Linked DNA regions of Homo sapiens. The protein of the gene in region 1 interacts with the protein of each later gene in a pairwise test. Each region holds a gene or a part of one and is shown in the gene's direction. Other genes may lie near its edges. The genes, in order: ZNF566 and KIF2C.

Region 1 (3,819 bases):
GTTCATTTTGGGAGAATTGACATCAATATTCAATCTATAGTACATATGGTATATGTCGACATTTGTTAAGATCCTTAATTTCTCTTACCAATTTGTCATTTTTAGTAACATTTTTGATAGCTTTATACCTGAGTATTTGATGTTTATTATGGAAACTGTGAATAGTATTTACATTTTAAACAATTTTCCAATTACTTGTTACTAGAAATGCAATTGATTTTTATATATTGTCTCTATATGAGACCATGTTGTTTAATTCACTTGCTAATTTTAAGAATTTATTATTTAGGATTTTCTATGTCTGCAACTTATCATCTGTGAATAATGATAGTTTTCTTTCTTTCCTACCAATCTTTATACCTTTTATTTCTTCATCGTGCCCTATTATACTGGCCAAGCCCTTTATTACATTGTTAAAAAGAAATGATGATAATGCACATTATTCTTTTTTTCCTGGATTCAGGGGGACATTTTTCAGTGTTTCAACATTAGTTATAACATTAGCTCTAGGATTTGATATTTTCCTACATACAAGCTCATACATTAGCCTGTTAGTTTCATGAATGCTGGCAGAAAACATGAGACCCCTGGATCAGAGACAAAGACTTTATTACTCATGGCACAGCAAGCAGCGTAGGCATCAGTGTTCATCAGTTCCTATTTCTCTCAGCTCCCATGGGGACAGCATGTGGGTCTACATGGATGCTATTCATGCAGTGCATGGGCATAGCCACTGAGGAACACTGAGCCTGGATAATCCATTGCTTTTATAGTCAGCAGTAAGCAACCCTACTGTTCGTGCTCTTATCTCAACTCTCAAGGTTATCAGCTGCATAAATAACCCTGGGAAATGAGTAGTTAGAATCTTGCATTCTAGGCATACCCAGCAAGACGCCTAAGAATGTGGAGACCCATGGTAACTGTCTCTCCCAACAGTAGGTATTTCTTAGATGCTACTCATCAAGTTGAGAAAGTTTTCTTTCTTATTTCGTGAGACTTTTTTTTTTTTTTTTTTACATTAATGAGGGCTGAATTTAAAAGAGAGGAGCAGATCCCCTGATGTAAGAATTCAGCATGGGAGGCTGCCCTCTGGGGCAAAGATGAGGAGTGTTGAGAATGCAACAAGCATGGTATGGAGCTGTTGAAGTGGGAATGTTTCATGCCATCCTGCTTGGAAGGTACAGCATTTGAAGACATCCCTTTAACCAGAGGAAGGCCAGGAGGAGAGACCAGAAAGGAGGGCTTAAAATGAGGAATATAGAAGAAGGAACTCTGTTTCCAGATCTTTCTGGATTATTTTTGACTCTTTAGTATCTAGCACAATGCCTGGCTATTATATATCATAGGCTATTTGGTTGATAAAAGAATACTAAGAGCTTAATATGTAGTAGTAATAATAATAATATCAGCGTGCATTTAGGTTTTAAAGAAGAGACACTTGTATTCCTTTGGTATTCATCTGGGGAAATGCAGTGAGTGAGTGCCTATGGGTAGAGGAAGCCATTAGATAATTGATAACATGGTGCTACTTTCTGGGTGGTCAGTTTTATATGAAATAATTGATGAATTGTTTAATGATCAAGAAGCTTGGTGCATAGAGAATAATAGTGCTCTTTATAGTTTGTATAATTTTAAGTTTATTAAGTTCTTGTAGCTAATAAGCAAAACACCAAAATTTTCTTAAACATTTAAACATTGATCACTAATTCAGTTCTTCCCCTTAAACAATGTAGTCTTCCTTTAGTATTTTAGTATAACTTATTCTTTTGGGCACTTTAAACATCTTAAAGTGAAGATGTTTATAAAGAATACACACAAGGCTGGGTGTGGTGTCTCACGCTTATAATCCCAGCACTTTGGAAGGTCAGGATTTTGAGACCAGCCTGGCCAACATGGTGAAACCCGTCTCTACTAAAAATACAAAAATTAGGCGGGCGTGGTGGCGGGAGCCTGTAGTCCCAGCTACTTAGGAGGCTGAGGCAGGAGAATGGCGTGAACCTGGGAGGCGGAGCTTGCAGTGAGCCAAGATCGCGCCATTGCACTCCAGCCTGGGCGACAGAGCAAGACTCCGTCTCAAAAAAACAAACAAACAAACAAAAAAAAAACAGAAACAGAAAACTGGTTTGACCCAGGTATATCCAAACTTAAAATGTGTATAATCTCTGAGCAATTATACTTTTAGGAATTAATTGTGAAGAACTCATATACAGGTAAAATGACATATGCACAAGGATATTTATTACAGCATTGTTTGTTACAGTGAAAAACTAGAAAAAGCCTAAATGATGATTGGCCACAGATTGGTTAAATAAATAAAGTTATGGCCAGGCGCGGTGGCTCATACCTGTAATCTTAGCACATTGGGAGGTGGAGTCGGGCGGATCATGAGGTCAGGAGATCGAGACCATCCTGGCTAACAGAGTGAAACCCCATCACTACTAAAAATACAAAAAATTAGCCGGGCGTGGTGGCACATGCCTGTAGTCCCAGCTACTTGGGAGGCTGAGGCAGAAGAATCGCTTGAACCCAGGACGCGGAGGTTGCAGTGAGCCAAGATTGCACCACTGCACTCCAGCCTGGGGGACAGAGTGAGACTCTGTCTCAAAAAGAAAAGAAAAAAAAAATTAAGTTATATCCATTTAATGGACTGCAATGTAGCTATTAAACCAGTTATGTAACACAATATGTGCTAATTGGGACTTCATTCCAAGATATGTAAAGTAAAAATAGCAACGTGTATAAGTAGTGTGTATAATATGAGTTAAAAAAATCTATATGTATGTATGTGTGTGTATATAAACATATATTCTCCAAGCCATATTGAGTTGCCCTAATCCATCCTGCTCCAGTTACAGCCTGGTATCTTTGAAGCTAGGGATGATAGAGACATTTGCCCATTCTCCTCACTGATACCCCACAAGCATTTCTGAAGCATGAACAGAAGGAAAATGATCATTCTGGGCCAGGAGCTGTGAGGAAAGTGGGGTCTTATCTATCTTCTTTTGCCTCTCCCAGCTCTACCCTTCTCCAAAAGAAGAGCCAAGAGAAGGTCCTTTTCTACAAATATCAGAGCCATGGCTCAGGTGAGATACTGTTTCCTTTTGCTCAGATAGAGTGATTTTTACTTCTAGTAACTGTAAACATTTGCTTTCCTCATGATGATGCTTTTTGATGTTAGAAAAACAACACCTTTCAAAAAGTTTGGTTATGAGCAATGTCAGAATTTTGCTGTAAAGGAAAGGATCTCTAACAGGCCAATTCATAGAAAAAAAAAGAATTGATTACATAATCATTGTTAGAAAATTTACCCTTTTTTTTTTTTTTTCGAGATGGAGTCTCGCTCTGTCTTCTAGGCTGGAGTACAGTGGCACAATCTTGGCTTACTGCAACCTCTGCCTCCAGGGTTCAAGTGATTCTCCTACTTCAGCCTCCTGAGTAGCTGGGATTACAGGCGCCCACAACCACACCCAGCTAATTTTTGTATTTTTAGTAGAGATGAGTTTTTGCCATGTTGTCCAGGCTGGCCTCGAATTCCTGACCTCAAGTTATCCACCCGCCTCAGCCTCCCAAAGAGCTGGGATTATAAGCATGAGCCACTGTGCCCAGAAAAAAATTTATATTAATTCACTGTTAACTGTTAGTCAGCCAAGTGGTTGAATAACAAATTTCTCTGAAGAAGTTTTAATTTAGATTAATGTCCATCAGAAAATCCCCTATCAGTTTCATCAAGAATACTTATTTCTTTCTTTCCATAAAGAGATTTAAGAATTATGTAATGTAAAAATTATGTAATGTAAAAACCTGACCCAGATCAGGTTT
Region 2 (3,819 bases), on another chromosome or scaffold:
TGTTCTGCTTCTAGTGAGGCACAGATAGTTTACATCCTGTCCTAAACCTGGCCTACCTTGGCACCTGAGTTCAAGCCCTGTTTGTCACGTGGGGGCATGTTTTCCTCTGGCCATGGAATCAGTCTTTCATTATCAAGACAAAACAAGAACTGTTTCACTTCTGTGGTTGTTGAGAAAGTAGCCAAGATGCATAGGAAGAGCTTGGGTTAGAACTGGAGTGCAGTTATCACTATTTGACTTCATATTGGCCAGGCCACTACTTTGTGGACTTGTCCATCCCGAGAGTCACATCTATTACTTCTTTTTGCATATAGTGATTTAAGAGTAAGGATCTAGAGAAGGCCTCTCCCTGGGAAAGGCCCAGTACTCAGTAAATAGCCAGAGAAGAGTAGGCTGGCTTAAACTGGTAACAGAGTGGGCTTCCTTTTTTTTTCTTTTTTTTTTATGTTTTCATAGTTCGGAGGAAATCATGTCTTGTGAAGGAAGTGGAAAAAATGAAGAACAAGCGAGAAGAGAAGAAGGCCCAGAACTCTGAAATGAGAATGAAGAGAGCTCAGGTACCTTTCTTGGGAGACTAGGGTAAGGGTTTTTGGACAGGTGTCCTTAACCGAAACTCTACGGGCAACAGAGATACAGTTGGGCCCCAGCATTTCTGAGGCTCCAGTTCTTGAGGCCCCAATTCTTTTTTTTTTTTTTTTTTTTTTTTTTTGCTCTGTTGCCCTGGCTGGAGTGCAGTGGTGTGATCTCGGCTCACTGCAACCTCCACCTCTGGGTTCAAGTGATTCTTGGGCCTCAGCCTCCCAAGTAGCTGGGATTACAGGCATGTGCCGCTAATTTTTTGTATTTTTAGTAGAGACAGAGTTTCGCTATTTTGCCCAGGCTGGTCTGGAATGCTTGGCCTTCCAAAGTGCTGGGATTGTAGGCATGAGCTGTTGCGCCTGGCCTCTGACGCTCCAATTCTGATATCCAGGAAATTTAACTGGTTTATCAGGATTCAGAGAACAAATAATTCAGAAATGTTTCTGAAGGCCCTCAGATGAGGAACATTTCATGCTGACTGTCTAGTAAGCAAGCCCATCACATGCTCACATGGCGTGATGGCCAGAGGGGCTGCAGGGCACAATTGGTCTGCTCTCTCCTATCCTCCCCCAAGTTGTACGTATTTGGAGGGCAGGGACTGCAGTACAGTCCCCTTATTTGGGTTCATTGCTTCTGGGAAGCCCGATCTGCTGTGCCTCCTAAAATGTGGAACTGGCCCTAGTTCCAGTTCCTAGCGTGCTTTGGCGTATGCTTAGGCCCCTCTGCCAATCTCTTCCCCAGTGCTTTGTACCTGGCTTCTCAACCCAGAGCCAGGGCAGGGACTTTGACAACTATGAAGGGTGGTGAGCAAAGAGCTGTTGCTGCTGCCGCATAGGGGTCTGAGAGCACTTATATCTTAACAGTCTGCCCTTTTTCACTCTCGTCTCAAACCAGGAGTATGACAGTAGTTTTCCAAACTGGGAATTTGCCCGAATGATTAAAGAATTTCGGGCTACTTTGGAATGTCATCCACTTACTATGACTGATCCTGTAAGTACATCCAAAGAACTTCTCTTTCTTAAGTGTACAATTGAGAGACAGAAAACTTCTCTTTACAGGAATGAGGGCATGCAGGAATCTTTACTCACCTTTGAGGGTTTTATTATTATTTTTTTTTGAGATGGGGTCTCACTCTGTCACCCAGGCTGGAGTGCAGTGGTACGATCTTGGATCACTGCAACCTCCACTTCCCTGGGCTTGAGTGATCCTCCCCACCTCATCCTCCCAGGTAGCTGGGACCATAGATGCATTCCACCGCACCCTACTGATTTTTTGTATTTTTGGTAGAGACAGGGTTTCACCATGTTGCCCAGGCCAATCTGGAACTTCTGGGTTCAAGGAATCCGCCTACCTTGACTTCCCAAAGTGCTGGGATTACAGGTGTAAGCTACTGTGCCTGGCTGAGGTTATTTTATTTTACTTTTTTTTGAGACAGAGTCTCGCTCTGTCGCCCAGGCTGGAGTGCAATGGCATGGTCTTGGCTCACTGCAGCCTCCACCTCCCAGGTTTAAGTGATTCTCCTGCCTCAGCCTCCCCAGTAGCTGGGATTACAGGCATGTGCCACCACGCCTAGGTAATTTTTGTATTTTTAGTAGAGATGGGGTTTTACCATGTTGGTCAGGCTGGTGTCGAACTCCTGACCTCGTGATCTGCCCACCTCAGCCTCCCAAAGTGCTGGGATTACAGGCGTGAGCCACCATGCCCAGCCGAGGTTATTTTTTAATATCCTTTGGTGGGCTGAAGCTAGTGAGGCCCACATGGGGAGGGGTCTGATCTTTATAAACTGGGTTCCACCCCCATACCATAGGTTGGCTAGATTCCTGCATTAGTAAAAATCATGAAAGTAGTGCTGAAACTCTTGTAGGCAGCAGAGTGAGAAAAATGGGAACAAAATCCAGTGCTCCCTTCTTGTGCTCTGGAGTATCTAATGGAGGATGCAGGGGTCCTAGTGTTAGATCTTGGCCTCTGACTGGGCCAGACATGGGATTGGAAGGGGTGGGAGTTCTGGACAAGCTCGCTTTTGAAATTGCTCTGACCCTTTGCTGTTGGTTGCCTCCTCTCATCCGCTTGCAGATCGAAGAGCACAGAATATGTGTCTGTGTTAGGAAACGCCCACTGAATAAGCAAGGTAAGTCCTGTTCAGTCAGGAAGAGGCTTCAGACTGACTAATGGGCCTTCTGTTTCCAGGGAGCACCCCCTGAAATACTCTCCTTCTGCAGAATTGGCCAAGAAAGAAATTGATGTGATTTCCATTCCTAGCAAGTGTCTCCTCTTGGTACATGAACCCAAGTTGAAAGTGGACTTAACAAAGTATCTGGAGAACCAAGCATTCTGCTTTGACTTTGCATTTGATGAAACAGCTTCGAATGAAGTTGTCTACAGGTTAGTCCCTTGCATCCATTTTTCCCTCCTTGTGCCCTTCCATCCCCTTTTTTTGTGGGACATCGTGGTAACACTACTCACAGACGTGCTGAATTCTGAGGCTCTTCCTCGCTTCTTGTGTTTTCTTTGGGTCACACCCTTTGGCAGCTTAGTGGCCCATCCTTGAGTGGATACTGAATGAGGTATCACCCGTTACGTGCTGAGGCAGGGCTGGCCAGGCTCCAGGGGTTCTTCTGTGCCTTATGCAGCCACACCATTGCCCACTGGGGTTCACAGATTTGGGGAACTCCAGATCTGCTCTATCTGCTTTTTTTTTTTTTTTTTTTTTTTTTGAGACGGAGTTTTGCTCTTGTTGCCCAGACTGGAATGCAGGGGCACAATCTCGGCTCACTGCAACCTCCGCCTCCCAGGTTCCAGCGATTCTCTTGCCTCAGCCTCCCACATAGCTGGGATTACAGGCGCCTGCCATCACACCTGGCTAATTTTGTATTTTTAGTAGAAACAGGGTTTCGCCCTGTTGGTCAGGCTGGTCTCAAACTCCTGACCTCAGGTGATCCGCTCGCCTTGGCCTCCCAAAGTGCTGGGATTAAAGGTGTGAGCCACTGCACCTGGCCCCAGATCTGCTCTTTCTAATACAGCACCCAGTACCCTCATAGGGATATTTACTTATTTTATTTTTATTTATTTATTTGTTTTTTGAGACAGAGTCTCAGTCAGTTGCCCAGGCTGGAGTGCAGTGGCGAGATCTCAGCTCACTGCAACCCCCGCCTCCCAGGTTCAAGCAATTCTCCTGCCCCAGCCTCTCAAGTAGCTGGGATTACGGGCACGTGCCACCACACCTGGCTAATTTTTTGTATT

Evidence for each region.
Region 2: the proteins of ZNF566 (region 1) and KIF2C interact in a two-hybrid assay, tested with the Homo sapiens proteins (one large-scale study listed by BioGRID and IntAct).

The regions. Positions count from the first base shown.
Region 1 is NC_000019.10:36,475,813-36,479,631, reverse strand, and holds part of ZNF566 (zinc finger protein 566), read left to right. Parts: intron 1-3,015; 5' UTR 3,016-3,074; coding exon 3,075-3,083; intron 3,084-3,819. UniProt on the Homo sapiens protein: May be involved in transcriptional regulation.
Region 2 is NC_000001.11:44,753,277-44,757,095, forward strand, and holds part of KIF2C (kinesin-like protein KIF2C), read left to right. Parts: intron 1-456; coding exon 457-557; intron 558-1,473; coding exon 1,474-1,569; intron 1,570-2,652; coding exon 2,653-2,707; intron 2,708-2,798; coding exon 2,799-2,961; intron 2,962-3,819. UniProt on the Homo sapiens protein: In complex with KIF18B, constitutes the major microtubule plus-end depolymerizing activity in mitotic cells. Regulates the turnover of microtubules at the kinetochore and functions in chromosome segregation during mitosis.